Linked DNA regions of Homo sapiens: region 2 is reported to be linked to region 1. Evidence: microRNA targets listed by miRTarBase, many of them from high-throughput screens and not tested one by one. Region 1 holds a microRNA gene; the other region holds the end of a gene's coding sequence.

The links. Region 1 holds the annotated microRNA hsa-miR-6782-5p (UAGGGGUGGGGGAAUUCAGGGGUGU, at 1,586-1,610, shown strand). A microRNA usually pairs through its seed, bases 2 to 8, with sites in the 3' UTR of a target mRNA and lowers its output. Matches are read on the target gene's strand: a 7mer-m8 pairs with bases 2 to 8, a 7mer-A1 pairs with bases 2 to 7 and ends in A, and an 8mer does both.
Region 2: miRTarBase lists CYB5B as a target of hsa-miR-6782-5p. Seed matches in the 3' UTR shown: 7mer-A1 at 2,093-2,099.

The regions. Positions count from the first base shown.
Region 1 is chr17:44,205,894-44,209,419 of GRCh38, reverse strand. It overlaps MIR6782 (microRNA 6782), which reads left to right and starts at 1,581; the gene lies at 1,581-1,649. UBTF (upstream binding transcription factor) reads left to right here. Exons shown (of 21, transcript NM_014233.4): 17 at 1-68; 18 at 1,509-1,556; 19 at 1,650-1,721; 20 at 1,823-1,966; 21 at 2,053-3,526. The coding sequence ends at 2,178. The region is part of intron 1 of ATXN7L3-AS1 (ATXN7L3 antisense RNA 1); the gene reads right to left. RefSeq lists enhancers at 116-1,315, 1,957-2,457.
Region 2 is chr16:69,462,167-69,465,166 of GRCh38, reverse strand. It overlaps CYB5B (cytochrome b5 type B), which reads right to left. Exons shown (of 5, transcript NM_030579.3): 5 at 1-2,737. The coding sequence ends at 2,647. Among named protein-coding and RNA genes, the nearest start is that of CYB5B, 39 kb to the right of the region's middle.

The DNA.
Region 1 (3,526 bases):
AGCACTACAAAAAGCTGGCCGAGGAGCAGCAAAAGCAGTACAAGGTGCACCTGGACCTCTGGGTTAAGGTGAGAGGGCAAGGGACCCTTGGAAGGAACAGAGAGGCATCAGACTAAGCCAGCACCATCCTAGCCTGGCCCATCCACCCACTTGTGCTGGCTGGTCTCATTCATGATTTCATTCCATGCCCTCGCAATCCTTCAGGATAACGGTCACTATCACCCTTTTATTTTTATTTTTTTTTTTATTTTTTGAGACAGTCTTGCTCTCCTGCCCAGGCTGGAGTACAGTGGTGTAGTCTCGGCTCACTGCAACCTCCACCTCCCAGGTTCAAGCGATTCTCCTTCCACAGCCTCCAGAGTAGCTGGGGCTACAGACATGTACCACCACACCTGGCTAATTTTTGTATTTTTAGTAGAGATGGGCAGGCTGGTCTCGAACTCCTGACCTCATGTGATCCGCCCACCTCGGCCTCCCAAAGCACTGGGACTACAGGCTTGAGCCACCGTCCGCAGCCACTATCACCCTTTTAAAAATAAGGAAACCAAGGCTCAGAGAGGTTAAGTAACTTGCCCAAGGTCACACAGTAAGTAGAAGAATCCAAATCAGACTGCCTTTTCCTCCCCCATCTGGGACCACGGGACCTCTCCTAGACTCCTGGCCTTTGTGCTTCCCCTCTGTGCTTTGGTTGAGTAGTCAGATCTGTAAAGTGGAGAGAATCACCTGTGTCCTTCCCACTCACCAAGGCAGGTTGGCCAAGGACCCAGGAAGACTGTGGGGATTTGCTGTTTCAGGAGTTTGGTGAGCCCCACTGCCTCATCGATGGCTCAAGGGTTTGGTGTTGGGGTGTGGTTGATGATGCCAGGCTGACTCATCACGGGGGCACTTCTTTGGAGTGAGGAAGACTCTGATAGGAGCTTCCATTTGCGAAAAGCAACAGGGAAAATGTGAAAACCAATAGTCTTAGTGGTTTAGAGAAGGACTCTGGGTATCAGAAGCAGAAATACTAGGGTTTGGGCCAGCGCAGTGGCTCACGCCTGTAATCCTAGCACTTTGGGAGCCCAAGGTATGAAGGATCACTTGAGGCCAGGAGTTCAAGACCATCCTGGGCAACATAGTGAGATTGCTGTCTCTACAAAAAATTATAAGGTAGCATGGTGTGGTGGCACATGCCTGTAGTCCCAGCTACTCTGGAGGCTGAGTTGGAAGGATCACTTGAGCCTGGGAAGGTCAAGGCTGCAGTGAGCTGAGATTGTGCCACTGCACTCCAGCCTGGGTGACAGAGCAAGACCCTGTTTCAAAAAAAAAAAAAAAAAAAAAAAAAAAATTAGAGCTGTGTTCTCAGATCCCAGGGGCTCTCTGCAGAGACCCAAAATCTAGGGAGCCTGGGAGGGGTAAGATGGGGTGATGATATATAAATGCTCAGCCCACTGCCTAGCACTGGGCCAGCATGCTCAGTCAGCAGTAGTTGGCTATGTTCCAACCCTTGCCGCTTCTGTCTCCCCCAGAGCCTGTCTCCCCAGGACCGTGCAGCATATAAAGAGTACATCTCCAATGTGAGTCTGGGAGCAGAGCAGCAGTGGGGTAGGGGTGGGGGAATTCAGGGGTGTCGAACTCATGGCTGCCACCTTTGTGTCCCCATCCTGCAGAAACGTAAGAGCATGACCAAGCTGCGAGGCCCAAACCCCAAATCCAGCCGGACTACTCTGCAGTCCAAGTCGGTAAGGAGCCCCTCCCAGATGCAGGGGCGTGGGGCGGGGGGCACTGCCTGGAATGGTTGGGCAGAGACCAGAGACCACTGATGTGCCTCCATCCCTCCAAGGAGTCCGAGGAGGATGATGAAGAGGATGAGGATGACGAGGACGAGGATGAAGAAGAGGAAGATGATGAGAATGGGGACTCCTCTGAAGATGGCGGCGACTCCTCTGAGTCCAGCAGCGAGGACGAGAGCGAGGATGGGGATGAGGTGGGGCAGACAGGGCACAGTGGGAGGGGAGGGGAGTCCTGCCAGGAGGGCCACCTGGTGACTCCACATCCTTTCTCACCCCCCAGAATGAAGAGGATGACGAGGACGAAGACGACGACGAGGATGACGATGAGGATGAAGATAATGAGTCCGAGGGCAGCAGCTCCAGCTCCTCCTCCTCAGGGGACTCCTCAGACTCTGACTCCAACTGAGGCTCAGCCCCACCCCAGGGCAGCCAGGGAGAGCCCAGGAGCTCCCCTCCCCAACTGACCACCTTTGTTTCTCCCCCATGTTCTGTCCCTTGCCCCCCTGGCCTCCCCCACTTTCTTTCTTTCTTTAAAAAAAAAAAAAAATACGGTGGGGGTAGGGGGCTGGAGGAGCCCAGGCCAGGACTCTGCAGCCTCAGAGACATCAGCCCTTGGGGGTCCTCCTCCAGGGACAGCAACTATCAGACTAAGCCAGCACCGGACCAGCCTGGCCCACCCCACCCACTTCTGCACTTGCGGTTCCGGCATGGACAATGGACCGGAGAGTGGGGGTGGGGGGTCCCAAAGAGTTTGATGAGGCCCTCCACACCTGCGGCCCAATCCAAGGTGGGGTGGAAGCTTGGGGAAGACCCATTCCTTCCCAGAGGGGCCTGCCACCTGGACCCCTGCATTGGAACTGGAGGCAGGGAACATGGGGAGGAGGAGGGTCGGTGCCTTCAAGAAAACAGGCACTGCCCTGGTGGCCCTCTCCCCTGCCCCCTGCAGGAAGGAGCTGCCTGGACCCGTTCATGGGGGAGGGGGCAGAAGTGTTTTTTATATATGTGTATATATTTTTTTTTAAGCTCTGAGCTGTCAACGAGACGTTTCCTACCGATCTCGGCTGCCGTCTCTGTTGTCATTTCTGGGAGAGGGAGGGTTTAGGGGTAGATTTGGAACCTTTTAAAAATGGTCTTGATGTATGTGGAAGAGAGTATGTGTATGTGTGTTCCTGTACATAGCATGGGTGCAGCTGTGGATGTGTGCAAAAGAGTGTGAGTGTGTGTGTGTGTGTGTAAAGGGGTCTGTCCTAGAGCCCACATCAGTTTGTTGTGAATCTGGAAAAAGGGTCGGTGAGGGCCGGGAGATGTTGACCCTGGTGGGAGCAGGCTGAGGCTGCCCCGTTCTCCACATCCTCTGTTTTGCCCAGTCTCTGATTCCATTAGGGGGAGTGTGCTGAAGCCATTCTCGGATGCTTCCCAGACCAGGCTCCCTCTGCCAGAGTCACATGCATCCGAGCTGCTGGTCTCCATTGTCCAGCAGGAAGGCGGAAAGGCAGGCAAGATGGTGTGAAGCTTAAAGCTTGTATTTGATGGAAAAGGTCTCCCCTGTTCATCTGAGAGGCCAAGCCTGGCCACCCCAGGCTCAGAACCTGGGCTTCAAGAAATGTGCTGGGAGCTCCTAACTTACACATCCCTCCAGCCTTCCTTGAATCCTCCCACCACCCCCTATTTCCTTTAATTTCTCAGGTCTGCTCCCTCCTCCCCCAACCCCACAGCTGGGCAAGAAGTCTGCAAAAGCTGCATCTGCAGCTGTC
Region 2 (3,000 bases), not on the chromosome of region 1:
CCCAGAGACCAGCTCCAGGTGGCACTGTCAGCCAATGGGGACTGGCTCCACTTGCTCTCCAGAGGGTTTTTCACCAGCTACCCATGTCAAGACTGTTTTGTGAATTCAAGTCTACTTCCTAAAAAAAAGGTCCTTTTGGATGGATTTGGCTAGTGTGCTATACTACTTTATTGTATAGAAAAACCTCTGCAAACTCTCACACAAGATTTAGCTTTCACCTGGCTGTTTTTGTAGGCAACAAAATAACAGTAAATGGACCCCAAAGTGATTTTCCAGATACAAAGTGACATCACATCGGCAGTAGTTCAGAAGAAGCCCTGGGTACTGGGGGATTTCATGGGTGGAAGAGACAAAGTCTAATTATCTTTTCCTCTGGCTCTCAGCAAAAAACAAGTGCAGATGTAAACAGGAAAAGAAAACCAATGTGAAGTAGAAAAACATACCTTTTGCATTGGCATTTACCTTAAAAATAACAAAAACACCAATTTTACTTAAGATGGTAGTTCTTTAACATTTCTTATAAGCCAGATGTTTTTCATTCAATTTCGGACATTGCCAACACACTTTTACAACTGATTCAAGTTATCTTCAGGCTTGGCTTTAGTTTGAATGTTCCCTTTCAAGCTCCTCAATACTCCTCTGTTCTTTACTTTTACCCCAATGTACTCCAATAATCACGCAATTTATTTATTACAGGCAATCATATACCAATCCTTCCTTGCCTTTAAATAGAGAAGCATCAAGTCATACCACTTTTGTTAAATAATAACCAAAGTTTTTTTCAATATTGTCTTAAAAGTAGCATCTTATAATGCATACAAACATTTTTCTAAAGATAAAAGCTTTACTAAACCCATATCCCTGATAATAAAAGTCAGCCAGAAATCTCCTAAAATTACTCCCAAATATATCCAAGTGTGCAAGTACAAGGTTAATATTATTTTGATGAATTCTGTATTCATTCAACTGCTAAATCACAGGATACAAGACCTGGGTTGAACTTTTTCTTAAATAGTTTACATGGGCAGTCCCTGGTTTGCTGGGCAGTTTCCTGTCTCATCAAATCCCTGGCAAGCTGGGAGGGAGGGAGGAGATGCTGAGCAGCCTCTATGGTCCTTCTTGAACCAAGCTGCTCCCTGCTGGATATGACAATGGCTCAGAAGCAGACTAGCAATTCTCAAAGGACAGGGAGAAAAATCACCACAGTTGCTGGCAGAAAACAGCCAGTGTACTATTTATTTCCTCAAGTGCTTCCATGGGGGAAAAAATAAAAGTCTAATATGCCAGAGAAATCATCATTGAACCAATAAGACACAGTAACATAATTCTAGTAACCTACTTCTCAATGAACACACATCTGAGAAAAAAACCGCCAGTATTTTATTCTCATGGAAAAACAGAACAAACCCACAAGTTGGAGTCACGGAGATAAAATACAGATGAAATGGAAAACGGTCTGTTGTCATGAACTCTCACTTTCAAATACCATTTTATATGGAAGTTACTTTACTGCGGGGCAAACAGAAGGCCATGCTGGAGTCTCTTACTTTTGGAAAATGGAGAATCAAAAATTTGCTAATCAACAAACAAAAAAGGAGGGAAACTCCTTGGTAAAGCTCTACAAACATAATTATACATTTATATTTTACCAATAAAAGATAGCTAGGGTAGAAAAAACAGATGGTTAGAAACTGGTGCCAAACCAAAGTGAAAGCTTTGGTGCCTTCTCTAAACTCCTATCCTGTTTCTTTAGAAAACACCAGTTTTCTAAAGAAAGATTACTCTGAATTCACCAGGGTTCTATCACCCCAATTCATCCCTACCTTTCCACCCCCAAGACACGAAAGGGCCATGTAGTTTTTTGTCCGGCACCACTTGGGAAGGGGCTGGGCTCAGGGGCTGGGAAGAGCTACCTGCTGCCCTAGCTTGAAAGGGAGGAGGTGGCCACACCATTCTTTGTATTTTTATCACGCACATAAAAGAACAAAAATCATTTGGCAGTTTTAAGTTTAATAGGTGCAAACCTTTACTTCAGGAATTAAACCCCTTATGATAAATAAAAGAATTAAATCAGATTTTTTTTTAATACAGATAGGGGTCTCGCTATGTTGCCCAGGCTGGTCTTGAACTCTTGGCCTCAAGCGATCTTCCCACCTTGGCCTCCCAAAGTGCCAGGATTACAGGCCTGAGCCACCACACCTAGCCCTAAATCAGAATTTTTTAAAAAAAATTTACTTAAAAGAAAAATGGAAAAATAAAACTTTCAACACTAGACTGCCGCCCTGTTAAGAATGTCTAATATGCAATCAAAGTATTGGAAAGCAGGCATTTTTACCAAAGAGCAATGTCACTATAACTTATGAACAGAAAGTTGTGAAATATAAGGGTACTCATGGAAACCAGTGAAGAGAGGAAACACCGGCAATTGTTCAACACGGAACAGTGAGCAGGTACTTTGGGAGTAAGGCTCTGAGAGATGGAAGACGCTGGTCTCAGATCTGAGGTGATGTCTGGCCAATCGTCTTGGCTCCAAGGGGGAAGAATGCAACTGGCAGGATTCGAGGAGAGGGCACTTCTGCAGCCCCCAAGCAAGTCTCTAGTTTTCGCCCCAAAGTGGATGCACTTTCTAACTTCAGCAAGGCCTCCTCAGGAGGATTTGCTTTCCGATGTGTAGTAGCGGTACAGGAAACCTAAGAGAACAGCGCCTATGATGGGTAAAATCCAATATGCCCAGCAACTAGGAATAGGGGGAGAAAGCAATAAAGTTGTTAATATTTTAAGCCAAATGTTCACTATCTTTCAGCTTTCACATGTTTTTATATAGGCAAGGAGTTTTTATTTACTTTGGGAAATTTAACTGCTTTTATCACAAAGTAGTTGGGGAAAAATATTTGAATTGGAGTGACAATATTACAAAGTAATTTTTTAAAAGGTTAAAAACAACCAATAGTATGATATCAAATAAGATGTCTTTAAATGCCTCTATATGTGTTTCTACAA